Linked DNA regions of Homo sapiens. The protein of the gene in region 3 purifies or fractionates together with the protein of the main gene of each other region. This does not show direct contact. Each region holds a gene or a part of one and is shown on either strand. Other genes may lie near its edges. The genes, in order: MESD, GUSB, IDS and SUMF1.

Region 1 (7,027 bases), on a different chromosome or scaffold from region 3:
CTGGGGAGGTAAAGAGGCAGCTTCGATCTGATCTGTATCTGTTTTATATTCTAGAGTGTCCAGTTACACTTTTATGGGACAAAAGACTTCTGCTGATAAAGGTGGAAAACCAATGGCTTAGAGTGGGTCATGATAAGAGGCTATGAAGGACTCAAGAGGACACTTGGTTGTTGGACAAAAATCCTAGCCCTTGAGCTTAGCAGCAAGCTGCCCAGCTCGTCCACACTCGAAAGGTCCCAAGGAACAAAGCGGAAAGAATGAGGCCTGGGTGGAGCCCTAGTGTGGCCAGCGGGCAAGATTCTTCTGTTCCTTAGGGACTACACCACGCGTTCCCCCTTCAGTTTCTAATGCTCCCACCACTCCACAGAGACCAGTGGGCCTTCTGGAGCAGACATCACCAAGACATTTATTTGTTCTGTCTAGGTGTCTATTTAAGCTAATTGAAAATATTTTGCTGGCCGGACACTCTCTAAGTACTCCTCCCATTTCTTGTCATTGCTTTTATATTTCCTAAACCAGAATATTTGCAGACCCCAAATTTCAGAACTGTTTTTGAGGAAAAAGAAGCAGATTTCTTAAAATTGTACCTCAGGACCATACTCAAGTGTGAAAACTGAGCCTCTTCATACTAAATTAGTTATCGGTTAACAGCATGGTCCAAGCTCTATGTGTGAACATAGCTACACACAAAGCACTTTCCACTGAGCAGAAACTTCTAGCTGAAGCTGTCAAACTATTAACTTTGTCCCTCAAAGAGTCTAAACTAAGCTATACACCCTTCTGTTCAGATGAAATAAAAGCTAAAGATCCAAAGATAAATAAAACTTTAGGATCAACTGAGATATTAAAAAAAAACACACACTAGGCATGGTTGCCAGTGACAGTAATCCTAGCACTTTGGGAGGTTGAGGTGCAAGGATCACTTGAGGCCAGCAGTTCAAGATCAGCCTGGGCAACATAGTGAGACCTCGCCTCTTCAAAAAATAAAAACAAAAACTTAACTGCTTTTACCAACAATAAATGCCCTTTTTTTTTTTTTTTCTTCCCCGAGATGGAGTCTTGCTCTGCCGCCAGGCTGGAGTGCAGTGACGCAATCTCGGCTCACTGCAACCTCTGCCTCCCAGGTTCAAGCGATTCTCCTGCCTCAGCCTCTGGAGTAGCTGGGATTACAGGCGTGCATCACCATGCCCCGCTAATTTTTCTGTATTTTTAGTAGAGACAGGGTTTCCCCACGTTGGCCAGGATGATCTTGATCTCCTGACTTCGTGATCCGCCCACCTCAGCCTCCCAAAGTGCTGGGATTACAGAAGTGAGTCACTGCACCCGGCAACGCTCTTCTTTACATTAAAAAAATCTAGATAGGCTGAGTGCAGTGGCTCACACCTGTAATCCTAGCACTTTGGGAGGCTGAGGCAGGCAGATCACGAGGTCAGGAGATTGAGACCATCCTGGCTAACACGGTGAAACCCCGTCTCTATTAAAAATACAAAAAATTAGCTGGGCGTGGTGGCAGGTGCCTGTAGTCCCAGCTACTCGGGAGGCTGAGGCAGGAGAATGGCGTGAACCGGGAAGGCGGAGCTTGCAGTGAGCTGAGACTGCGCCACTGCACTCCAGCCTGGGCAACACAGTGAGACTCCGTCTCAAAAAAAAAAAAAAAAAAAACAAACTAGATAGATAAATAATTTTAAAAGAAAACCTAGAAAGGAAAGGCAGAGGCCCTTGGGAAATACGGCCAGAAAGGACACCCTGTTAAGAGCCTCAGGAAAAGCCCCAGCACAGGGCCAGGTGTGGTGGCTCACGCCTGTAATCCCAGCACTTAGGGAGGCTGAGGCGGGTGCATCACCTGAAGTCAGAAATTCAAGACCAGCCTGGCCAACATGGTGAAACCCTGTCTCTACTAAAAATACAAAATTAGCCAGGCATGGTGGCGGGCGCCTGTAGTTCCAGCTACTCGGGAGGCTGAGGCAGGAGAATCGCTTGAACCAGGGAGGCGGAGGTTGCAGTGAGCCGAGATCACGCCGCTGCACTCCAGCCTAGGCAACAAGAGCAAAACTCTGTCTCAAAAAAATCATCATCATCATCATAATTAATAATAATAATAAAGAAAAGACCGAGCACAGCCTATGAGTCTCTCAGCTGGTTGTTGCTGCTTTACCTCTGGACGTCATAGTTGGCATTGAAAAGGCTGCCCTGCCAGAGGCTCGTAATTTCCTCTGTCTCCTTCTCAGTAGGGCTTCCTGATACAGTGACAAACATCATGAGAGTCTTCCCTTTTTTCGTCATTTTCAATATGCTTTCAGGCTTGCTTGGGTCTATCTTTGAGAAGTCGACAGGTGCTGAAGGTCTCTTGTGCTCTGGAAGATCTCCTTCTTCAATGTCATCATCTTTCTATCAGATTAGGGGAAAAGCATCAAACCTATCATCAGAATCTTGCTTTTCAACTGGCACAGGCAAAAACTTCTGCATGATGTCAGGTGCATGTATATGACTTAAATTACAACATAAAAAGGAAAACCAGGGGTTTTCTTCCTCTTCTTAACTTTCAAGATAGTCTAAGTTTCAGGCAGCACATACTACCCACACCCAGGTTACCAATCACAGAGCGCCCCCATGTGATGGGTTTCTAGAGCTTTTAAACTCTCATACAATCTACCCAACATGGTAGGCTGTAAAAATGGCCACATTCTGGTATGGTCACACAATGAAATACTTCACAGCAACAGAGAACAAATACTGATACATCTAACAAATCCCAAAAATGTTAAGTGACAGAAGCCAGATACAAAATAAGATTTACTATGCAATTCCGTTTATTTAAAATTCAAGAATGAGCAAAACTAATCTAGGGTAACAGAAATTAGAACAGTGTTGCCTGTAGAAGGGGGGACAAGGGAGGATTAACTGAGAATGGACACAAGAGAACTTTTCTGGGGTGATGAAAATGTTCTACATTTTGACAGGGGTGTAGATTACACAGATATATCCATTTATCAAAATTTATTGCAGGCCAGGCACTGTGGCTTACCTTGTAATCCCAGCACTTTGGGAGGCTGAGGTAAAACGATCACTTGAGGCCAGGAGTTCGACATCAGCCTAGGCAACACAGTAAGACTGTCTCTAAAAAAAAATTTAAAAGTAGCCAGGTATGGCAATGCACACCTGTAGTCCCAGCTACAGTGAGGCACACCTGTAGTCCCAGCTACTCAGTAGGCTGAGGTGGGAGAATTGCTTGAGCCCAGGAATTTGAGATCAGCCTGGGCAACATAGTGAGATCCCATCTCTTAAAAAAAATTTAAAAATTAGTCAGGTGTGGCGGCAGGTGCCTGTAGTCCTAGCTACTCAGGAGGCTGAGACACGAGGATCACTTGAGCCCAGGAGATCAGGGCTGCAGTAAGCTATAATTATGCCACTGCATTCCAGCCTGGGAGACAGAACGAGACCCTGTCTTAAAAGAAAAAAAAAAAAAGAAAAGAAATACTCCCTCTTTGCACTGTATACTTAAAATCTGCACTCCATGTATACCCATTTCACTTAATAGGCATTGTACAAAAATATTCAATTCCAGTTAGCAGGTTTGTTTTCTGTAGTGGTATGGGCTAGCAATTCTGAGACTATCTTATGTGACCTCTAGGATTGAGAAAAGGAGTAAACATATTGAGGGTAATGAGAGCCAGGTTCTTAACTTCTGGGAAGTAAGTTACAAACATGAAAGGGGGAAGAATGAGCCCTGTGGTATTAGGCTGGAATTGAAGGTATCAGGAGAAACTCATGGTTTTTCATAGATTAACAGATGAGTAAACAGATTAATGGATAAAAATATTTAAAAGAGCGTGGGTTCCTTGGAGAACAGGCTTATAGCAAGAGAGACAGAAGATGAGCCTAGAATAATCCCGCATCACAAAGTAGTAAAGTGCTCAAAGAATCGTGAACATGTCAAAATGCCATGGAAGCCAACTTGAAGCAGCTCTCATGGGCCAAAGTTGAAATAATCTCAACATCAAAATAAATAATAGTATGACTTACAACCCCTCAAACAAAATGAGATGTTGAACCCATAATGATCAAAACAAATGAATAAATTACTAATAGAAAACAGTAACTTTTTTTTTTTTTTTTTTTTTTTTTGAGATGGAGTCTCACTCTGTCACCAGGCTGGAGTGCAGTGGCACGATCTCGGCTCACTGCAACCTCTGCCTCCTGGGTTCAGGCGATTCTCCTGCCTCAGCCTCCCGAGTAGCTGGGATTATAGGCACGCACCACCACATCCAGCTAATTTTTGTATTTTTAGTAGAGACGGGGTTTTGCCATGTTGCCCAGGATGGTCTCGATCTCCTGACCTCGTGATCTGCCCACCTCGGCCTCCCAAAGTGCTGGGATTACAGGCATTAGCCACCATGCCTAATAAATAGCATATAGACTGACAAATAAAAAATCTTTAATAGAACCAGGTTCCTTGGAGAAAAGGCTAATGCCAGCAACCAAAAAAAATGAAGTACTGGCTGGGTATGGTGGCTCACAACTATAACCTCAGCACTTTAGGAGGTCGAAGCTGGAGATCACCTGAGCACAGGAGTTAAAGACCAGCCTGAGCAACATATCATGACCCTATCTCTACCAAAAAGAAAAAGAAAAAAGAAAAAAGAAATGAAGTACTGATTGATACATGAAAATATTATGCTAAGTGAAAGAAGCCAGATATGAAAGACTACACATTCTATGATTCCATTTATAGGAAATGTCCAGAATGGATAAATCTGTTGAGACAGAAGGTAGATAAGCGATTGCCCGGGGCTGGCTAGGGAGTTGGGAGAACACAGGGGAGGAGTGGTTGAAGGTTTCTTTTGGGGATGATAAAAATGTTCTAAAATTGAGTTTGGTGATGACTGTACAATTCTCTGAAGATACTAAAACTAAAATGTACACTTTACATGGGTAAATTGCCTATGGCATGTGAATTGAATCTCAATAAACCTGTTACCAAAACAAAAAACAAAAAAAAGCCCCTAAGTCACTCTTACTGAACAATATCTGAAGGGCCAAGGCTTAAGATACCATTAATAATGTACTATATTAAAAATAATTTTAGTAAAAAGTAAAAACGAAAGAATTCTACGCAGTGCTTGAAGGTGATCCATACCGACGTCAGACCTGGAATCTGGTTTCAGTTTTGCATAACTAGCTGTGTGACCCTGCCTAAGAATCCTTACGCCTCGAGGCCTGTTTCCTCATTTACAAAATGAAAAGCAGAACGAAGTGATCTCCAAGGCCCCAGTAACATGACCACACATAACACACTAACCTTCTTTTCCACTCTGCCACCCTCTCAACTGACATGTTTCTTCCTCACTTTGCTTTCAAAGAGCCACTGATGGTGACTTGCAGACAGGAGCATGGGCTGTGCTGTCAGACGGATGCGCTCCATCACTATGTGGCCTTGGGCAAGTTACTTAGCCCATCTGAAAATAACTTTCCTTACCTATAATGGAAAGCTGAGGGTAATAACAGCTTCTCCCTCCTAAGGTTTGTTTGGGGATGTAATGACTTAAAGGCAAGCAGAACTCAGTACTGTATCTGTTGGCTATGACACTGCTGACTCTTTAGGCCTCTGTGATCTGGCCTCCAACCACAATCACTGCATGGAAATTATACTCTCAAGTCACAAAGGACCTCCTAGTTGCCAAATTCACAAGTTGTTTCTGTCTTTATCTTAATTCTCCATAACATCGGTTATAGTCTCTTTAAAACACTTCAAGACTTCCAGTTGGTTCAATACCCTAGAATATTTGTATTTTTCAGATTGATTTCACTAATAATCATGAAATTAACTCAGTAGGTCCCAAGCAGCTTTTTTTTTTTTTTTTTTTTTTTTTAGATGGGGTCTTACTCTATTACCCAGTTTGGAATGCAATGGTGCTGGTGCAATCTTGGCTCATTGCAACTTCTGCCTGCCAGGCTCAAGTGATCTTCCTATCCCAGCCTCCAGAGTAGCTGGGACCACAAGTGCATGCCACCACACCTGGGTAATTTATTTTTGTATTTCTGGTAAAGACGGGTTTCACCATGTTGCCCAGGCTGGTCTCGAACTCCTGAGCTCGAAGGATTCACCCGCCTCAGTCTTCCAAAGTGCTGGGGTTACAGGCATGAGCCACTAAGCCCAGTCCAGCACTTCTTTGTTAATGCAAATATAATTAAATAGTCGTAAGTCTAGTGCATATAATACAGGTAAAAATTGTTTCAAGAGACTTAAAAAAAAAAGCAGCTTTAATTTCCATTGTATATGTGTGTGTGTGTTTCAGTTACAGAAAAGAAAATTGCAAAATAGTACCCTAATGAGCCTGGAGGACATTATGTTAAGTGCAATAAGCCAGACACAGAAAGACAAATACCGCGCATTCTCCTTCGTATGCGGACCTAAAATAGTTGTGTTCACATAAGTGGAGATTAGAATTGTGGTTACTAGAGGCTGGGAAGTGGAGGGGAGATAGGGAGAGAGGATGGTGAATGGATACAAAATTACATTAGATAGGAAGAATAAATTCTAGTGCTCTATAGCATTGTAGGATGACTATAGTTAACAATAATTTATTGCATATTTTCAAACAGCTAGGAGAGAATTTTAAATGTTCCCAACACAAAGAAATGATTAATGTTTAGGAGACAGATATGCTAATTACCCTGAATTGACCATTACATTTTATACATGTGTAGAAATACAACTCTGTACCCCATAAATATGTATAATTATTATATGTTAAAATTGAAGTGTAAAAATAGTACCCTAGATGTACATAATTATCCAGTTCTACCCTTAGTCTGGGTAACCTAACCTGTTATGATCAGTGTGTTTATGCTGAAAACAATCCAGTCTTTACCCTGAGGCAGAGCGGGGGGCCAGGGACAAGTCAGGCAGTCCCCTGACTCCAGTCCTAGCCCTGCCTCCAGGCCAGTCTTGCATTTTCAACTGGCTTTAGAGCTCCTTCATTACTGTTTGTCTAAGTCAGTAGCTACAAAGCTGAGCTCCCCTTTC
Region 2 (7,027 bases), on a different chromosome or scaffold from region 3:
GATCATGTCATTGCACTCCAGCCTGGGCTACAGAGTGAGATTCTGTCTCTCAAAAAAACAAAAACAAAAACAGTCTGTACTGTGGAGGCCTCGGGCAGGTGCCAGGAGCTCTGAGCACAGACGGGTCCCTCTGTTGGGTTTTTCTTCCCTTCTAAGGGCCATTTCTTCTTATTTATTTATTTATTTTTTGAGATGGAGTTTTGCACTTGTTGCCCAGGCTGGAGTGCAATGGCACAATCTCGGCTCACCACAACCTCTGCCTCCTGGGTTCAAGTGATTCTCCCGCCTCAGCCTCCCGAGTAGCTGGGATTACAGGCATGCGCCACCACGCCCAGCTAATTTGTATTTTTAGTAGATATGGGGTTTCTCCGTGTTGGTCAGGCTGGTCTCGAACTCCCAACCTCAGGTTATCTGCCTGCCTCAGCCTCCCAAATAGCTGGGGCCACAGGTGTGTGCGGCCATGTCAGGCTAAGTTTAAATTTTTTTTTTTTTTTCCGCAAGATGGAGTCTTGCTTGTTGCCCAGGCTGGAGAGCACTGGTGCAATTTTGGCTCACTACAACCTCTACCTCCTGGGTTCAGGCAATTCTTCTGCCTCAGCCTCATGAGTAGCTGGGATTCCAGGCGCATGCCACCATGCCCAGCTAGGTTTTTTTTGTATTTTTTTGTAGAGATAGACTTTTACCATGTTGACCAGGCTGGTCTCAAACTCTTGACCTCATGATCCACCCGCCTCGGCCTCCCAAAGTGTTGGGATTACAGGCGTGAGCCACCATGCCCGCCCCTAATTTTTAAATTTGTTGTAGAAACAAGGTCTTGCTATGTTGCCCAGGCTGGTCTTGAACTCCTGGTCTCTGGTAAAACTCCCAAAGTGCTGGGATTCTAGGCGTGAGCCGCCTTGCCCGGCACTTGCACCATTTCTCTGCATGCGTCTCCACTCCCACTGCCCAGGACCTGTGGACTTAGATTTGAGTCACTGCTGAGCACCTCGCACCTAGCCCCATGCCTGCCTCCCAGCCTGCACTCCGTTTGCTTGATGCATTAATAAATATCCCTCCCAAATCTGCATCCATCCACCTCCTGTGTTCAAGAGCTGTTTCAGGGCGTCAACCTCATTTTTGCCAGTGTCCAGCCTAGTGACCTCAGCTCTGTGTACCTGGAAGAGTGGCTGCTCCTCTGGGGGTATAGGATTCGGAGATGGGGGTAGAAGGAGTGATGTTAGAGAGCTCGGTCTAGGACTAGAGGATCATATGCCCTTATGTAAAATACATCTCAAGTTAGGGAAGAAAGCAGCGGCTCCATGCTTTTTTTTTTTTCCCCTTTGTTTTTGTTTGTTTGTTTTGAGACAGGGTCTTGCTCTGTGGACCAGGCTGGAGTGCAGTGGCATGATCTTGGCCCACTGCAGACTCCTCCTTCTGGGTTCACGCCATTCTTCTGCCTCAGCCTCCTGAGTAGCTCAGACTATAGGCGCCGGCCACCACGCCCGGCTAATTTTTTGTATTTTTAGTAGAGACGGGGTTTCACCGTGTTAGGATGGTATCGATCTCCTGACCTTGTGATCTGCCCGCCTCGGCCTCCCAAAGTGCTGGGATTACAGGCGTGAGCCACTGCGCCTGGCCGCTAATTTTTGTATTTGTAGTAGATAGAGTTGGGGTTTCACCATGTTGGCCAGGCTGATCTTGAACTCCTGACCTCAAGTGATCCACCCACCTCGGCCTCCCAAAGTGCTGGGATTACAGGTGTGAACCATCGTGCCTGGCCCCGTGTTGTGTTCTGGCGGTGGAAGATGGGACAGAGAGGATGGGAGGGTGTCTGAGCCATTCCTGGACTGATGGAACCTGTTTCTTCTGCCTTTTGTGGACAGGATGGTGATCGCTCACACCAAATCCTTGGACCCCTCCCGGCCTGTGACCTTTGTGAGCAACTCTAACTATGCAGCAGACAAGGGGGTGAGCCTGGGGGTCCCCACCCCACTTCTCCCTGCCTTTGCCTGGGCTTGTCCTGAAGCCTGGTCATGGGAACAGCCAGGAAGAACCATGCGCTGCCAGTCTGGGTTTTATTTCATTTTCTTTTTTACTTAAAAAGATAGAGACAGGGTCTTGCCATGTTGCCCAGGCTGGTCTCCAACTCCTGGGCTCAAGCAATCCTCCTGCCTTGGCCTCCCAAAGGGCTGGGGTTACAGGTGTGGGCCACCACACCCCGGCCGCAGCCAGTCTGTTTTCACAGATGGTCTTTGGGTTAATGAGAATTCTCCCCCTGCTTACTCGCCAGGCAGTGTGGCTTTCTCAATCCAAGGAGGCTGGGCATAGGGAGATGGGATTTGTTTGCTCAGTTTGGACTCAGCATTTTTTGCACTTCGATTTAATAGACTCATAAAACATCAAAGATTTAAGGGAGCTTAGAGTTCATCTGGCCCACACCTGGCTGATGAGAATCTCTAGGGGAAGTTTTTATGAAATGCCAGATCTCTGCATTCTGAGGTCCTGATTTAGTACGTCCAGGGTTGGAACTTGAGTTTTTCTTTTTCTTTTGTAGAGGCAAGGTCTTACTCTCTTGCCCTGGCTGGAGTGCAGTGGTGCAATCACAGCTCACTGCAGCCTTGAATTCCTGAGCCCAAGTGATCCTCCTGCCTCAGCCTCCCGAGTAGCTGGGACTCCAGGTTTTCACCACTGCGCCTAGCTAATTTTATATCTTTTTGTAGAGGTGGCATCTCTCTATGTTGCCCAGGCTGGTCTCAAAGTCTTGAGCTCAAGTGATCTCCTGCCTTGGCCTCCCAAAGTGCTGTGATTACAGGCATGAGTTGCAGTGCCTGGCTGACATTAGCATTCTTTATTTATTTATTTATTTATTTTGAGATGGAATCTTGCTCTGTTGCCCAGGCTTGAGTGAAATGGTGCAATCTCAGCTCGCTGCAACCTCGTCCTCCCAGGTTCAAGCAATTCTGCCTCGGCCTCCTGAGTAGCTGGGATTACAGGTGCATGCCACCACACCCAGCTAATTTTTGTATTTTTTAGTAGAGATGGGGTTTTGCCATGTTAGCCAGGCTGGTCTCAAACTGCTGATCTCAGGTGATCTGCCCACTTTGGCCTCCCAACGTGCTGGGATTACAGGCGTGAGCCACCACACCCGGCCAGCATTTTTACTAGAAAGAAATGTGTTCAGGACGCATTAGAAACTAGCCAGTTGGACACAGAAGCCCCTGCTGCTCAGCTGTAAGCACCGCTATGCTGAAGCTTGGGGTGGTCCTACTCGGTCGTCACCGCCCTGCTCCTTGGAGTGACTTTTCTGGCCCTCTGCAGTCCACAGTGCTGCCTTGTGAAAGCTCCCTCAAGATCCTCTGTGACAGCCGGGCATGGTGGCTTACACCTATCATCCCAGCACTTTGGGAGGCCGAGGCAGGCAGATTACTTGAGATCAGGAGTTCAAGACCAGCCCAGCCAACTGGTGAAACTTCATTTCTACCAAAAATACAAAAAATTAGCTGGGCGTGGTGGCGCACGCCTGTAATCCTAGCTACTCGGGAGACTGAGGCATGAGAAGCACCTGATGGTGGGAGGCAGAGGTTGCAGTGAGCTGAGATCGCACCACTAACATTCTAGCCTGGGCGACAGAGCGAGACTCTGTCTCCAAAACAAAACAAAAGATTTTCTGTGAGAATGACTGCATCGGCCCCTCGGGTGGCAGCGCTTCTCCAGGGCAAGGTGAGGGGAAGCCCAGTGATGGGAGTGCTGCCTGGAGAGGAGTCAGTTCCAGTGGTGGGGGCCCTGGGCTTTGGCTGAGGGCTGTGCGTTGGCAGCTGCTGTGCCTCTCACAGCCCTTCCCAGCGGCGCACGTCATGAGTGTCAGTGTGGAGTCCCAGGCCTACCTCCTCTGGGCCACTTTGTGACCATGTTTCTTGCCTATGGCAGGGTAATTTCAGGATCTAAATTGGTACACTTGGACGTTCTCAGCCCCAGGAGGCAGCTGTTCCCGTTCTAGGTTTTTTTTTTTTTTTTTTTTTGGTAGAAATGGGGGCTTGTGATGTTGCCCAGGCTGGTCTCGAACTCCTGGGATCAAGTGATCCTCCCATCTTGGCCTCCCAATGTGCTGGGATTACAGGCATGAGCCACCGTGCCCTGCTAATTTTCTTACTACTATTTTTTGTAATGCTGCAGTCTTGCTGTGTTGCCCAGGCTGGTCTTAAGCCATCCTCCTGCCTCAGCCTCCCAGAGTGCTGGGATTACATCCCCCTTACCTTCTCTGCCAGAGGAGCCCCCGCAGTGTGTGAATGCTGAGTCATGCTGTCTACTGAGTGCTGAACGGGCTCTGCTGCTCTGGTCCTAGGCTCCGTATGTGGATGTGATCTGTTTGAACAGCTACTACTCTTGGTATCACGACTACGGGCACCTGGAGTTGATTCAGCTGCAGCTGGCCACCCAGTTTGAGAACTGGTATAAGAAGTATCAGAAGCCCATTATTCAGAGCGAGTATGGAGCAGAAACGATTGCAGGGTTTCACCAGGTAAGCAGTGTTGAGCTTTCTGCTTGTGTGTTCTCTCAGGGCAGAGATGTCACTCACCTCCTCCAGCCTGACCTGCGCCCACTGCACTGCTCCCCTCGCTTCAGCTTTGGGCTCTCCTCCCACGGCCCCGTCCACGTTCCCTCACCGCCAACAGCCAGGCCTGTGCCCCACTCACTTGGTCCTCAGAGGTGGCCTCCTTACTGGCTTTGTTTCCAGATAGCCTCCTATCACCCGTGCCCAAGTGGTCTTTCTAACAGATCCAAATTTGTATTTGTTTTTGAGACCGGATCTCTCTGTCACCCAGGCTGGAGTGTGGTGGTGCGATCACTGCTCACTGCAGCCTTAACCTCCTGGGCTCAAGTGATCCTCCCACCTCAGCCTCCTGAGTAGCTGGGACCATAGGCACATGCCAACACGCCTGGCTAATTTTTTTACTTTTGTAGAGATGGGGTCTTGCCATGTTGCCCAGACTGGTCTTGAACTCCTGGCCTCAAGTGATCTGCCTCAGGCTCCCAAAGTGCTGGGATTACAGGTGTGAGCCTCTGCACCAGCCACAGTTGAAAATTTTGGGAGTCCTGTCATTGGCTCCCCCAGGCCCACAGGACAAAGCCCTAACCTCTGGTCAGGACACTCAGTGTCCTCTGCTCTCTCCTGGGTTTTCATCCCCTTCTCCCCTCTATCCCAGCCACTGATCTGTTTCCACTGCCCTCGCTTGCTCTCCTGCTCTTGCTTGAGCTGTTTCTTCTGCCTGGAATGCCCATGTTGGCACCATAATCACCAACTAAAATATCCTTTTTCTTAATTTTCATATTTTAGATATAGGGTCTTGCTATGTTGTCCAGGCTGGTCTCAAACTCCTGGACTCAATTGATCTTCCTGCCTTGGCCTCCAAAAGTGCTGGAATTACAGGCATGATCCACTGTGCTAGCCTTTTTTTCTTTTTCTTTTTTTCAGGGTCTTGTTGTGTTGCCCAGGCTGGAGTGCAGTGGTGTCATCATAGCTCACTGCAGCCTTGAACTAAAGGGCTGAAGTAATTCTTCCACCTCAGCCTCCTGAGTAGCTGGGACGACAGGCATGAACCACCATGTGCAGCCTATTTTTAAATTTTTTTGTAAAGATGGAGTCTATCAGGCTGGTCTAGAACTCCTGGCCTTACGTGATTGTCCTGCCTCAGACTCCCAAAGTGCTGGGAATCCAGGCATGAGACACCATGCCCAGCCTGTCGTCATTTTTTTAATCTATCTCATTTTTTTGTCCTCCTCACCAAAGATATGTTGGTTTGTCTTGTGAGGTTTTTTTTTTCCTGTGGATTCCTGAACCCCATCCAGCCCCTCATTCCCACCCCAGCCAGCTCACACTTGTTTGTCACAGCTCCTGGTTGACACACAGGGAACAGCCACCCACAGTGGACTGCGCTGTTCTGTTTGCACCCTTAAATTTATCGTGCTTACAGAATGCCACTTCTGCAAACTAGTCAAGTAGGGGAAGTGGCTCTTGGATATATTTGCTTGCGCATCCTCTTTGAAAAGGTAACCAGCTCTGAATTCTTTTTTTTTTTTTGACACAGAGTTTCGCTCTCGTTGCCTAGGCTGGAGTGCAGTGGCGCGATCTCGGCTCACTGCAATGTCCACCTCCCTGGTTCAAGCGATTCTCATGCCTCAGCCTCCCGAGTAGCTGGGATTACAGGCATGCGCCACCACGCCCACCTCATTTTGTATTTTTAGTAGAGATGAGGTTTCACCATGTTGGTCAGGCTGGTCTTGAACTCCTGACCTCAAGTGATCCGCCCGCCTTGGCCTCCCAAAGTGCTGGGATTACAGGCATGAGCCACCGTGCCAAGCCCTAGCTCTGAATTCTTAAGAAACTCTTGAGAGGGTCTAGGTCAGTGCTGATAGAACCTCTGCAGTGCTGGGCATGGTGGCTCACACCTGGAATGCTGGCACTTTGGGAGGCCAAGGTCAGAGGATCTCTTGAGCCCAGGAGTTTGAGACCAGTCTGTGCAACATAGACCCCATCTCTACAAAAAATTTAAAATTAGTTGGGCATGGTTATGAGTGCTTGTAGTCCAAGCCACTTGGGAGGCTGAGGTGGGAGGATTGTTTGAGCCCAGTAGGTCAAGGCTGCATTCAGCTATGATTGCACCACTGTACTCCCACCTGGGTGACAGAGTGAGACCTTGTTTCAAAAAATAAAAAAAAACAAACTTGCAATGATGGAAATGTTCTATATTTGCACTGTCTGAAATGGTACACACTAGCTACACATGGCTACTGAGGTCTTGATATATGACTAGGATAACTGAATTGATTTAGTTTAATTAAATAAATTTTTTTGAGACAGCCTCACTCTGTTGCCCAGGCTGGAGTGCAGTGGCATAATCACAGCTCACTGCTCAACCTCCTGGGCTCAAGCGATCCTCCCTCCTTAGCCCCAAGTAGCTTGAACTGCAGGCGTGCGCCACCACACCTGGCTAATATTTTGACTTTTTGTAGAGACTGGGTCTCACTGTGTTGCCTAGACTAGTCTTGA
Region 3 (7,027 bases):
ACAACAAGAGTTTGGTTGGTGAGAGGTGTACATTCCTCAAATGTATTTGATTCCTGTTTCACTGAGAGTTTGGAAAGCAATGCATCCATCTGTTTGTTTTCTAATTTTGTGTTTCTGGGCTCCTGATGGTGAAGTGGCTTGAACTGGCTCTGAGGCTGCACCTGGATGCTTTATTAGTGATGGTCACTTAAAATGACCCTTCAAAATGGACTGTGTGCCAGGAAGGGCGCTGATTCATGTGTGGTATCGCCTTTAGTCCTCATGGGGACTTAGTGAGGTACCTGCTCTCTGTTGTCTAGGTGAGGAAACTCAAGGCATGGGAGGTGTGCTGACTTGTCTGACAGCACAAAATTAGTGCTGGGTGGAGCCAATTCATCCCCAGGGACTGTAACTCCAAAGCCCCATGGTTGGATCTGTTGGTTCCCAGCAGTGTGGGTTCGAATTCATGTTCTACCTCATACCAGCTGCCTAACCTCTGTCAAGTCATGTTACCTCCCTGAGCCTCCCTGAGTTTTCTTCTCTATAAAACTGAAACAAGGTAGGTAAAGTTTTTCCATGATAACACCTACTTTAGAGATTTTCAGCAAGAACCAAAGAGAGCATGTAGAAGTATCTAGGACCGTGTCGGCTGCACGGAGCTATCTCCTTCAAGTTCTCTTAGTCCCCTCCTTACACACAGTGGACAGCATGACTCAGAGGGCCTCCCTGATGCCTGCATGTGCTGGTCTCAGCCCTGTGTTCCCCTTGAACTCTGGCCTGCTCACTGTCCTCTTGTAGCTTTGGATGTCCGCATCCAAGCCCATCTCACTGCACCCTTGAGACTCAGCTCTGGGATCTCTTCAGCTCCAGCCCTCTAACTCAGCTCTACATGAGCCAGTGACCTCAGGGGCCACACTCAGGAGTTTGTTGCCTGCTCCTTCCGAGTCACCATACTGACCACAACCTCTTCTCCTAGCACTTCCCTTGCTCTACCTCACGGGGATTGCTAGAGTATGGATTTCTATCTCCCCCTTGTGTCCAGGTCCTGTTGGCTTTGTTGCTTCCCTAAATAGCTAAGGCCTGGTGGCAGGTGACTTACTGTACTTCCCAGCCGCCCAGCTCACCATACTTGTCCATTTATCCTTGCCCCTCCTGCAGTACCTTTATCGTCAGACACTCCAGCCACACCCTCTGCTCTGTAGTCCAAGTCCTGAAAGCTGCTGGAGAAAATCCATGCCCCCACGAAGCAGGGAGGCCCTCAGATGCCCCGCCTCCAGCCCCAGCAGCCCAGGCAAGCTCTCTGCTCAGCTCACCTCACTTGTCCTCTGCAGCTGCTCCGTTTGCATGACCTCTTCTCTACTCCCTTTCACTGCTCCCCTCCAGGCCTTTGCCACCCCTGTGCCCCATTTCTCAGTGGATAGCACCTTTCCTCTTGTAGAAATGGAAGCTGGTGGACAGCCAGAGGTAGGGGATCGGACAGGGTGGATGTGGGTACGCATCCTGGCTGTGCCCCTTATCAGCTGTGTGACTCTGGGCAAGTTAACCTTTCTGAGTCTTGGAGTCCTTAATGTGCCGTTCACAGGATCAGATGCCACCTAGTGTGTACTTGCTGAATGGGCTCTATTAATAATCTCTGTCACTGAGACCTGGAATTTTGTGTATGCATGTTCTGGGCTCGAGGCCTCTTCCCTCAACTCCCCACCACTGTCCCTGCTTCCCACGTCTGCAAGCAGAATGAGCAAGATCTTCCTTCTCACCTACCTACCCTGCAGCCTCTCCATCCACTCTCATCCCTCCCAGCTGCAAAAGTGCCAGCCCCCTTGCCCCTGCCTGTTTCTGCTTTCCACTCCTTCACCTGACCTCCAAGGCAGAGCGAGTGCACACTGGGCTGTTCTGGCTGTGTCTGTGGCCTCATTGTCCATTTGTTCTTCACCATCCTCTACACAGGCTTCCACCTCCCCAATCCACTAAACTCTCACCTCAGCACTGACCTTGGTGGCCAGTAAAATCTATCTGTGTAGGTCCTGACCTTCCTTGAGCTCTGTGTCACTTCCTCACTGTTGGCCAGCTCCACCCCTTCTGGGACTGTTGGCCTCCCAATCCTTTCTGTGTCTGCCACTTAGGTGCCACTTCCCAGGCCCCCCACTATATCCTTTCCACCTCTTCTTCCCCTGCTGGGCTCAGTTGAGCCTTGGCAGATGACTCCAGAACTACCCCTTCAGCCCAGGTCTCTCCTGATTTTCAGATATGTGTGTTGACCTGCCTGTGAGAGCCATTCCTAGGCAGATGACCCTGGAGACCTCAGCTCCATAGGCTTCCGCGTGGTCAGGCCACCACCCCTGCCCTGCCTTTTCTCCTTCCTCCTCCTCCTCTTGCGCCCCCTGCCCCCAAATGCCAGCGAATTATGCCACCAGCTGAATGTGAAACCTGGAGTCACCCTTGGGTTCCTCAACACCTCCTCCTCCTCTGCTCCCTGCCCCCATGTCTGCTTGATGCCCCTGAATTCCTCTCACATCCACACAGTCCTCTGGATCCTTCAGCACATTGTTCTGGACCACCTCAGTGGGCCTTGCTTTGTTTTGTTCATTCAGCAAGTGTAGTGAGCACCTCTTATGTACCCAGCAGTGGCCTAGTACCATTTTGTCTAAAGCCTCTGGAATCTGTGTCTGTGTCCTGTTGCAACAGGACTCTTAATAACTTGAAGCCCAGATCATGTCAATTTCTCGCCTTGAAAGACCTCAGTGACTCCATTGGCCTAGAACTTGGAGTCTCCACTCCCTGGATAGACCCACCAGGTCCATATTATCTGGCCCGGACCTAACTTTCTAGTCACCCCTCTGCCCTCCCATTTGATTCTCCAGTCACATGGGCCTTTCATTGGCCCCAAATGCAACCTGCTCTGTCACAACTCCACACTGTTCCGTGCCCTGCAGCCCCTGCTTGGAGCATCTGAGCCCCATTTGTCTGACTGCAGGTGCTTCTTGTCAAATTCTAACTCCTCTGTGAAGCCTTCCCTGAATCTCCCAGGCAGATTTGAGGGCTTATTCCCCTGTGTCACCCCTGGGCCTCTGTGGGGGATCGGTCAGAGTGGTGGGAAAAACTATAGGGAAAGGATGCAAACCTTCTGAAAGGTCAGAAGGTTCTGCAGAGCCCCAGGGGAGAATAGCTGTTCTATAACCCTGAGGCAGAGGGCAAGGAGTAGGTACAAGGGAGTGTGGGAGAATTTATCTTAAACAGGCTTGTTTACTTATGTTGACCAGGAACTGACCTTTGATCGTCTGTGCTTGTGAGGTTCCCTGAAAGGGGAACAATAAATGTTAATTACCTGCAGGTTGGCTCTAGGTTTTTGGCATTATGCCTGCACTGAATAAAAGCCAGCAGCTCCAGCTTCTCGGGGCTGCTCTCTGGCCACTAGAGCCAGGCAGTAACCTAGCTGCTCTTATGCTGCATACCTGTGTCTGAGTACTCATTTCATCCATAGGCCAGGGTCTGCAGGACAGACCCAGCAGGCCTCACTGATAATTAAGCATTTTCTTGTCTCCATGATTGTGTCCTCACTGGATGGGGTGGCTCATCAAGGGTGAGGACCTTGTCTGCTTATTGCCTTACGTCCAGGGGCTAGCATAGGAAGGAGGGAATACCTTTGTATAGGACATAGCCATCCTGACAGGTGTCTTTCATCCCCAGGAGGACCAAAGTTCCACAGGTTTCAGACTGAAGACTTCATCTACCAGAAAGTATAAGTAGGCCAGGGCTCAGCATAATCCTGCTGGAAGGCTAGATGTATATCTTTTCTCTTGACTGCAAGTGAGAACGGGTGAGTCTCATGATTGTCCTCACCCTGGCAGTGATGAGAAGAAGCTGGTGGGTCCAGCTGATAAGTCAGGGGCTGGTCTGCGAAGACACGGCTCTCTTCTCACCCCTCTTTGGGGTGGAAGATTAATTTTTGTCCTTAGCATTTGTGAACCAGGTTGGGAATGAGAGTCAGCCCAGGAGGGGCCGGTGGCTCATTTACTTCAGGGCATGATCTGGCTGTTCCCAAAGTGCCTCTTGGGTTCAGGGACTGTGAAGGACGTGCTGCTCTCTGGTATCTCCTTTGCTCTTCTCCTGCCTGCTGACAGTTTGTTAGAAATGAGCTCCACGTAACGGCCATAGTTCATGAAGATATGCAGTTGTAATCTGCTGTTGGGTTAGCAAGTGATCAGAGGGAAAGGCTCAGTCAGGGTTGCTGTTATGTGTTAAATTATGAATTTTTTTTTCCCTGAAAAGGGCTGTTGACATCCTAACCCCCCAGTACTGCTGAATGTAACCATATTTGGAAATAGGTTTATTGCAGATGTAATTAGTTAAGATCAGGTCATATTGGAGTAAGGTGGGCTCCTAATCCAATATGATCGGTGTCCTTTAAGAAGAGGGGAGAGAGACACGGGAAGAACACATGAAGATGGAGACACAGTGATACAGCTGCAAGCTGAGGAATGCCAGGGACTGACAGCCACCACCACCAGCTAGGGAGAGGCAAGATTCTTCTACTTAGAGCCTTCAGGGAGAGAATGGCCCTCCCAGCACCTTGATCTTGGACTTCTAGCCTCCAGAGCTAGGAGACAATACATTTCAGCTTAAAACAACAGAGCAGTAGGTGACACATTCATCCACTGTGATCTGTGCCCTAAAGTGAAATCTGATTTGCTTAGAAATGTATCTTATTTGTAGACCTACAGATTTTGCTGTGACTCTGTGGGTGAAGTGATGCTGATGGTAGGGAAAGGAGTGTTACATTTTGGCTGAGAAAATCATTAAGGGCATCAACTAAGGGGTAGGGATTGGGAGAGATGCACAGGCAAGCATTATCTCTGTATGCCTTGGCAATTTAAATTGCAGTCACTCTCATTTTTATTTTTTTTCAATTTGCAGCGGAAAATCCGCCAGAGCTACTTTGCCTCTGTGTCATATTTGGATACACAGGTCGGCCGCCTCTTGAGTGCTTTGGACGATCTTCAGCTGGCCAACAGCACCATCATTGCATTTACCTCGGATCATGGTAAGCATTTTGAAATTCCCTGGTGAGTCAAAACATCTGAACTTTCCTGTGAAACATGCTTTGCAAAATTGCCATTGACATAAACATGGGTGTGTTCTCTTTTGTGAACCAGTGGTTCACAAACAAAGTGGGATCCTGGGGCATTTTTATGATCAGCTTGTTAGTCCTGAGACCTCTGTCTTAGATGCTTGACGGATAGGTGTGGGTGGGTGGGGGAGGGTCTTGCAGCAACTTTTTTTTTTTTCTTGATGAATGCAGCAGGAACCCTCCATTTGTGTGGCAGAGCTCTTGTAACCCCCATTTTTAACCTGGAGGGTTGGAGGACTTTTAGTTTGGGTGGAGAGGATCCAGAACAATCCTGGCAGAGCCCAGCAAGCTCTTCACGCCTGGCTCCAGCCCTCCCACCCCTATCCCCGCTGTCTTCTCTGCCGAGAGCCTGGGCTTTTCAAGTCTTTATCTCCCCCTAAGGCTGTTTCCTACTTTTCCAAAAATGAAACTATCTTTTTAAAAGCATTTTTTAAATTCTTCAACATTCCAAGAGCAGGGAATAAAACAGCAGCTCCCCCCGTTTCCCACTCACATAGTCTTGTTCCTCTCATCCTCACCCACTCCCCCATCTCTGAATTGTTTCGAAGCAAATCCCAGATGGTTCCATTTTCCGATCACTGTCTCTGAAAAATATTGCCTCTTTTGAAGTATAACCATAATACTGTTATACTTAGAGAAAGGAAAATAATTTTCATATCATCAAATATGAAATAGGATAATAGTAAATCATAACATGTGCTTATCATGAAAAGAAAAAAGGATACAGAGCATGTAATTCAGGGCCAGAACATCCTGCCCTTTTCTCCCACCTGCTCAGGGCTAACAGATGACAATGGATTAGGGATCCATCTGCCAGCCATCAGTTGTGCACATATGCACACAGGGATATATGTTATACATGTGTATGTTTGTAACATGTATGTCACAAGATGTGATTGCTTGTTCTGTGTGTACTGTTAACGTTCCCTGGTTTTGTACACTTAATGTCATAGGCAATCTCTGTGTCATTTCTCAGAAGCCTACCTTTTCCCTTAGAAATGTCTGTAATATTTTATTATATATGGAGGTGCCATAATTTTTCACATATTCCTGATTATCTGCCATCTGCTTCTGAGCCCTCGGTGCCCAGTTTCCTCTTCTCCACGAACACACTCTGTTGTGAGGCAGTTGCCGTAGATTACAAATAGCCCATCTCAGAGTCCCCTCCTGGGACATCCTCCATCAGAACCGCCTGGGAGCCAGTAAAACATGCTGGTTTCTGCAACTGGTCTCAGGAGCTCGCAGTTCTGGGCATGGGAAAGTGCACTTTAACAGGTGTCTCAGGTGGTCTGGCCACCTCTCCCTGAGCTCATCATTCCCTGGGCCTCCCTATGTTGCCACGTCCTCATCTTGGGCCTCTGGGGCAGGAGCCAGAAACCTCCTGAGCTGCCTGTCAAGGTCATCGGGCTTGTTCCTCCTGATCTGGAGATGGATCCTTGGGGCCCACACAGGCACGCGTTCTCCTTAGCCAGACTTCCCCGTATTTGCTCCTGGCTGCAGCAGCACAGGCTGAGGCCCGGCACCAGATGTTCAATACGATCTTGCAGTCAGGCGGTCCACAGCTATTTCTGTAGCATTTGCCATGTGTCAGACCCTGTGCCAGGCCTGGGGGCCCCCTCTGCCTGGTGCAGGGCAGCTCACAAAAGCTGGCAGAGGCCGAAGGCTGCGTGCCAGTATTCAGAATGCCACAGAGCGCCTGGCTGCTGTACCTTCAGAGCCTCCACAGGCACCCCAGTCAGAGTTCCGGGAGTGGATTCCTGAGGTCGCACTGCCAGGTTCCCTCACGTTGCCATCCTGCAGGCTTCTCGATCCTTGACCTTTTAGATTCCCGCCACACTGAATCTAAAAGGGACAATGTGACCTCTAAGCTGGTGGCCTAGGAGCCTGCCGATAACCTACCCATTCATCAGCCCTCGTGGG
Region 4 (6,849 bases), on a different chromosome or scaffold from region 3:
GCCTAGCTCAAATGTGGCCTTTTTTTTTTTGAGGCACTACTCGACTTGTCCATGAAGAATTAATTCTTTCTTCCTCTCCAGGTACTCTGGACATATCCCTCCTATAGTATTCTCACTATAGAAAAATGATACTTATGTGTGTGTCTGTGTGTGTTTGTGTGTGTGTGTGTGTGTGAGAGAGAGAGAAACACCTACCAGAGTGTAAATGCCATGTGGGTAGTGTATGGGTCTTTTTCTGTATGCCCAGCACATAGGATGAATCTTACATAACAAGTGTTATATAGTAATGTGCCAAATAAACATTTGTTTAATTAAACCAAATAAACAGAAAACAAAGAGGGGAAAAAAGGCAGAAACACCACTATGCTCATTTACTTCTCCTGAAATATTGGAGTTCCTGAATTTAGAATAAATGGTAAAGTGTCAGAATTAGACCAAAGTCATCTGCACATGAACTAAAACATTTGAAACCAAGGAAAATAGAGAGATTAAGAACAGCCTCCTATGACGTCATTGTCTTGATAACAAGACTGCTTCAGTTTCAGTCATTAAGTTCAGCCCTTGAAGGCTTGAAGGTATATTCTCATCAACCACTAATTTGTTAATAAATTGAGATGCCCCTAAGCATTGTAGAAAGCAGACTATAAGAACTGGCCAAAGATGGCCCATATAGCATCCAGTCAAGACACAAAACCACTCTATAGGGATGAAAAATGTACATCTTGTAAATGTAATCCAAAAGATTCTAACATCCACATCCCATTCTGGAACCCAGAGGAAAATAGAATGTTTAAAAATGAAAAATGTTCAATGCTTGCCAGAGGAATCTAGATAAAATTTTGAGACAGACCAATGTATATATGCAAATGAGATGGCTGCCCTATTAAAAAATAGATAAACAGATGTAAGGATTTCTCCTTAGAAAGAGGGACAGACTGGCTTGGCGCGGTGGCTCACGTTTGTAATCCCAGCACGCTGGGAGGCCAAGGCAAGCGGATCACAAGGTCAGGAGATTGAGACCATCCGGGCCAACATGGTGAAACCCCATCTCTATTAAAAATACAAAAATTAGCTGGGTATGGTGGCGTGTGCCTGTAATCCCAGCTACTTGGGAGGCTGAGGCAGGAAGGAGAATCATTCGAACCCAGGAGGTGGAGATTGCAGTGAGCGGAGATCGCGCCACTGCACTCCAGCCTGGTGACAGAGCGAGACTCCGTCTAAAAAAAAAAAAAAGAAAAGAAAAAAGAAAGAGAGATTGATTATCAATTACCAGGCAAGTTAGAGAGGAATTAATATCAAGTATGGCCAATACACACTAAAACAGTAATCAGGAGTCTTCAACACACAAAAGATAAACAGTACTGCAGGACATGCTCTAAGGGTAACAGGAAAAAAAGTAAAGGCCAAAAATTATACAGGATGGAAAAACAATGAGAAGCCCAGGTATCAACCTCCTACACTCTACACCTGAGAGACTAAATCATGGTCCTGACCCCATCACCCTCACAGTCCAGTTGGGGAGAGACATCAGCAGAAAAACATCTTTAATAATTGTTATGTCAGAATAAACACATAACTACTGAGGCAGGATACGGAAATATTGAAGGGGAGAGAAAGAGGAGATCAGGTAAAACCTACTGTGGATGTTACCTCTCACCTAAGTCCTAAATATTGGTCAGGATTAACCCAAAGGAAAGAAAAATGGAATGGGAAAAGGATAGTGTCTGCTAAGTAAACAAGAAGGAGCACTAGTTTAGGAGTCAGAAGACCTGACCTTTAGACCCATAAGTTGTTTCGACAACACATCAATATGCAAAATACCGGGCAGACAGATTGAAGTAACAGTTATTTCTTTCTTTCTTTTTTTTTTTCGAGACGGAGTCTCGCCCTGTCGCCCAGGCTGGAGTGCAGTGGCAAGATCTCGGCTCACTGCAACCTCCGCCTCCCGGGTTCCAGCAATTCTCCTGCCTCAGCCTCCCGAGTAGCTGGGATTACAGGCGCCCGCCACCACGCCCGGCTAATTTTTGTATTTTTAGTAGAGACGGGGTTTCGCCATGTTGGCCAGGCTGGTCTCGAACTCCTGACCTCGTGATCCGCGCGCTTCGGCCTCCCAAAGTGCTGGGATTACAGGCATGTGAGCCACCGCGCCCGGCCAGTAAGTTATTTATATATCCCGGCACCTAACACATACAGGCGCTAAGCAAGACAGATAAATAATAGCAATAAAACAACTACAGTTTGCTTAGCCCTTCCTAAGTGCTAAAGTGCTAAGAATAGCAGGATAAACAATTCAAGCCCTTGTCCTCAAGCAGAGTGTACTCGAGGAGACTACAGATAAGTATACAACAACCCTGGTGAAGATACTGAGACCCAGGATCCTAATTTATTCCGTTAATAAGAGAGGAAATGGTGATTTAAACCATAATTTGATTGCCTTAAAATTATGAGATCCTCATTAAGAGAACAGGTTGGAGGGAGAAAGAAATAGGGGGTAAAGAAGTAACAATAACCCTCAAACCAAACTCCCTAATGGTCAATTAAATGGAGTCTTCCGGTGAGGCACGGAGAAGGAACTCCTCATACGGGAACAGCAGGTGCTCGATTTGGGGTGTGGTTATAACCTTTACTTCCCTTCCTACTAGTGCCTTGCTTTGCCTACTCCAACCCCGTCCAGGAACCGAGCAGCCCCCACCCGCCTCGGAGGAATCGATGGAGCACCTTTGAGTGCGCGAGTTGCCGCTCTCCGGGTACGGGGCCCGGAGCGTTAGCCTCCCGCGAGTATCGGTGAGCGGCTGCCGAACTGCCATGGGCGCCAGGCCGCTGGGGCGTGCCGCAGCCGCAAGAACCCGCAAGGGACCCCGCGCCCGCACCGGTCCCGGCCTCCTGGCTCCCTGCCGCTCCACACAGCAGCGAGAGCAGCAGCAGCAAGAGGACGAGACCCAGCTCAGGGCAACGTCCACACACCAGCCCTAGTGCGGGCGCAGCCATGTTGTCCCGCGGGCCATGTGACCCGGTTGGTCACGTGGCTGAGCCCTCCTTAAAGGGGCAGAATTTTGAGCTGACTTACGAAGTGACCAGGAGAGTTGCTCTTCACCTTTCTTCAGGTACTTCTTTGGCGCTGCTGCTTGCCTGTGCTAACGTCAAAACGCAGCAAAACACAAAACTCCACAAAACTCAAGGCCTTCCACAGACCGTGCACCCCTTTATGATTTCTTGGTTGAAAAATAACAGTCAAATTTGCTGGGCATTTGGTAAGTGCCAGAGTACTATGCTAAGCACTTCACTTTTTAAAATCTCATTTAATCCTCACAAAGACCCAGTAATGGCGCGCTTGTAGTCCCAGCTAGTCGGGAGGCCAAGGCAGGAGAATCGTTTGAACCTGGGAGGCGGAGGTTTCAGTGAGCCCAGATCCCGCCACTGCACTCCAGCCTCGGCGACAGAGCAAGACTCCGTCTCAAAAAAAAAAGAGAAATACAATACGGAATCAGAATCCGTGGGGACTGGACACAGCAATCCAGGGTTTCACAAGCTCTCCAGATGATTCTAATCCACACTTAAGTTTAAGAACCACTGTTCTACAGTTCCGTAATCGAACAAAATGCAAAACCAAAACAAAAAGAAGATGAAGGAGAAACTTACAGATTAAAAAACAACATAGCAGGCCGGGCGCGGTGGCTCAAGCCTGTAATCCCAGCACTTTGGGAGGCCGAGGCGGGTGGATCACGAGGTCAGGAGATCGAGACCATCCTGGCTAACACGGTGAAACCCCATCTCTACTAAAAAATACAAAAAATTAGCCCGGCGTGGTGGCACGCGCCTGTAGTCCCAGCTACTCGGGAGGCTGAGGCAGGAGAATGGCATGAATCCGGGAGGTGGAGCTTGCAGTGAGCCGAGATGGCGCCACCGCACTCCAGCCTGGGGACAGAGCAAGACTCCATCTGAAAAAAAAAAAAAAAAAAAAAACATAGCAGCCAGCTGCAATATGTGAACCTTATCTAAATACTAATTCAAACCTACTGAGTTCAAAATTTTTGAGATAATCAGGGAAATTTAACCACTAAGTCAAATTATAATATTTGATAAAATTAAGGAATTGCTGTAAATTTTGTTTTTAGGCTTTTAGGAGTAATAATGGTATTTGTGGCTATATTTTTTAAAAGAATCCCCTCACTGAGGTACACACACACTCACTGAGGTATACACACACACACACACACACACACACATATATATATATGGATAAAAATATAGGCAGTCAAAGATTTGCTTCCCAAAAAATGGGTAATCAGGGTCTGGCTAAAGATGAAGCATGATTGGCCATGAGTTGATAACTGTCATAGCTGGTTGATGGGCATCTGGGTGTTTATTGCACTATTCTAATGTAGCATCTGTTTGAATTTTTTTAGCATAAAGAAAAGACCAGCCAGGCACCGTGTCTCAAGCCTGTAATCCCAGCACTTTAGGAGGCCGAGGCAGGAGAATCGCTAGAGGCCAGGAGCTTGAGACCAGCCTGGGCAACACAGCAAGACCTTGTCTCTACAAAAAATTAAGAAAATTAACTGGCCATGGTGACGCACACCGGTGGTCCTGGCTACTTCGGAGGCTGAGGCAGGAGGATCACTTGAGCCTGGTAGGCAGAGGCTGCAGTGAGCCATGATTGTGCCACTGCACTCCAGCCTGGGTGACAAAGTGAGACCATCTCTCAAAAAAAAAAAAAAGGCCTTTTCTCCTTGTTGACTATTTTACAGTTTGCCAAGGCCTTTCACACATTTTCTCATTTGAGATTACAACCACTTGGCAAGAAATGTATTATTACTATACTCATTTCAAAATTGATGAAGCTAAAAGGTCAATGCCTTAACCAAGGTTGTATGTATTTACTGTGCATAATATATAGTCAAGGTCTAGGTCAACGGTAATCTTTGTTCGCCTCCTTCAAATATCAGTCTCAGCACATGCTGTGTCAGCTGCGCTTCAGAGACCTGAACTTCTTTGATTCCTGGTCCAGCTATACCATTAGGCTATAACCTCCATGAAGGTAAGGCAGGAGCCTATTCGTTTGCCACTGTATCAGCAAAATCAGGCCAAGCCTGCACATGATCACTCAGTGAACATTTATTAAATTATGGATAAGTGAATGAACAAATGAAGTAACGATTATCTCTTTCTCTTAAGGGGAATCAAATTGTGGAGAAAATAATATAGGTCTTAGACTCACAAAGAGCTGTGGTTAAAGCTGGCCACTTTACATGAAGTATGACCTAGGCAAATTATTTCAGCTTTCTGAGCCTCTATTTCTTCGTGTGTGAAATGGGAATAATAATTCCTTTTTCTTATAGATTTTATGGGGATTAAATAACACAAAGTATATAAAAGGTGTAGCCTGGTACCTGACATTTAACATATCTCAAAAATAACTTTGCTATTACTAATCATTATGAAAGATGGAACTTTGTTGGTTCTCCAGGACGATCATTCTTTTGTCTCAGGCTAACTTTTTAGTCAATAATCAATGAGTATGAGATCGATGAGAGATTTCTCATCAATATTTTCCACTCTAATATTTTGCTCCTGTCAGTGAGGAGGCTTGTTCTAAAAATTAAGAGGTAAAAAGTCCAACTCAGCCATCAGCTCGTACGAATTAGTGTAATTATATAAAATATCTCTCACCCTCCGTCTCACGTGTGAGCTCCTTCTGCATTTTGTAGCCTTTCTTGCTCCTTCTATCTCATGAAGCTGGGAGGATGAAAGACCCCAGTCCTGAAAGCAGCTTGTCTGCTCACTGAACATCAAAGAGTTCAGCATGGCTACAGTGGAGTGAGCAAGGGGGAGAGAAGAAAGGAAAGGAGATGAGAAAGGTAACATTGGGCCAAGTCATGGATGAAAGGAGAACAGAAAGGTAACATTGGGCCAAGTCATGGATGTTCTGGTAAGCTTTTACTGTGAAAGTTGGTGCCACTGCAGTTTTGAGAAGACATCTGACACTCTTCCTGCTGAGCAGCATCAATTTTCCCTCCAGGTTAGAGGCTTCTCTTGCTTTCTGGTTCCTGAACACAGGGAATGCAAAGTGCCCTGATGGTAGCCATGGCTTGTAGTTCAATGGGACCCTGGTTGTGTCCACAGAAAGACAGCATCCCTTTGTGGATCAGGACCTGCAGCTCTGCAGAGCTCAGAGTTGCAGGGATGGGAGAACAAAATCCCAGTAAGTCAGTAGGAGTAATAGTAAGTGGGGCTACTTCTACTTCCACCTCTTGGTGGAACCTATATATTCTTCCTACGTGGGAACAAGTCTGACATCTCTAATTGAGGGCGTATACTGCATCCTTATAGATGGCCCCATCTTTGCAGGAAATTGCATCCAAGCTGGCGTTTCAGCTGTGCTTTCAGTAAGCCATTTTCACCCTTTATGAGGCCAGCTGCTTTGGGTTCGTATTGTAAGGGATAAAACCACTGGATTCTGTGATCATGGCCTACCCCTGCACCTCCTTCACTGTGAAGTGGGTCCCCGGTCAGATGTCATGTGGTGTAGGAATATATGCCTATGCATAAGGCATTCTGAAAGCCCTCAGACAGTGATGCTGCCTGAGGCTCTTGGAGTAGGAAAGGCACAAGTCAAAATGTTATCTACTTCACACGTGCAGGACACTTGGCTCCACTTTTTGGGTTTGATGAATAATGTTGATATGAACATCCATGTACAAGTTTTTGTTTGCACATGTTTTCATTTGTCTTCATATATACTAGAAGTGGGATTGCTGGGTCATATGGAAATTCTAACCTTTTGGGTTTGGGTTTAAAAAAAAAAAAAAAACAGGATCTTGCCCTGCTACCCAGGCTGGATTGCTGGAG

Evidence for each region.
Region 1: the proteins of IDS (region 3) and MESD purify together in Homo sapiens (affinity purification with mass spectrometry; 3 studies listed by BioGRID and IntAct, with this or other methods). This does not show direct contact.
Region 2: the proteins of IDS (region 3) and GUSB purify together in Homo sapiens (affinity purification with mass spectrometry; 3 studies listed by BioGRID and IntAct, with this or other methods). This does not show direct contact.
Region 4: the proteins of IDS (region 3) and SUMF1 purify together in Homo sapiens (affinity purification with mass spectrometry; 4 studies listed by BioGRID and IntAct, with this or other methods). This does not show direct contact.

The regions. Positions count from the first base shown.
Region 1 is NC_000015.10:80,979,795-80,986,821, forward strand, and holds part of MESD (LRP chaperone MESD precursor), read right to left. Parts: intron 2,389-7,027; coding exon 2,156-2,388; intron 1-2,155. UniProt on the Homo sapiens protein: Chaperone specifically assisting the folding of beta-propeller/EGF modules within the family of low-density lipoprotein receptors (LDLRs).
Region 2 is NC_000007.14:65,965,202-65,972,228, reverse strand, and holds part of GUSB (beta-glucuronidase isoform 1 precursor), read left to right. Parts: intron 1-1,862; coding exon 1,863-1,947; intron 1,948-4,321; coding exon 4,322-4,498; intron 4,499-7,027. UniProt on the Homo sapiens protein: Plays an important role in the degradation of dermatan and keratan sulfates.
Region 3 is NC_000023.11:149,488,307-149,495,333, reverse strand, and holds part of IDS (iduronate 2-sulfatase isoform a preproprotein), read left to right. Parts: intron 1-3,666; exon of another isoform or gene 3,667-3,796; intron 3,797-4,893; coding exon 4,894-5,020; intron 5,021-7,027. UniProt on the Homo sapiens protein: Lysosomal enzyme involved in the degradation pathway of dermatan sulfate and heparan sulfate.
Region 4 is NC_000003.12:4,464,258-4,471,106, forward strand, and holds the start of SUMF1 (formylglycine-generating enzyme isoform 1 precursor), read right to left. Parts: upstream 3,013-6,849; 5' UTR 2,989-3,012; coding exon 2,719-2,988; exon of another isoform or gene 2,567-2,718; intron 1-2,566.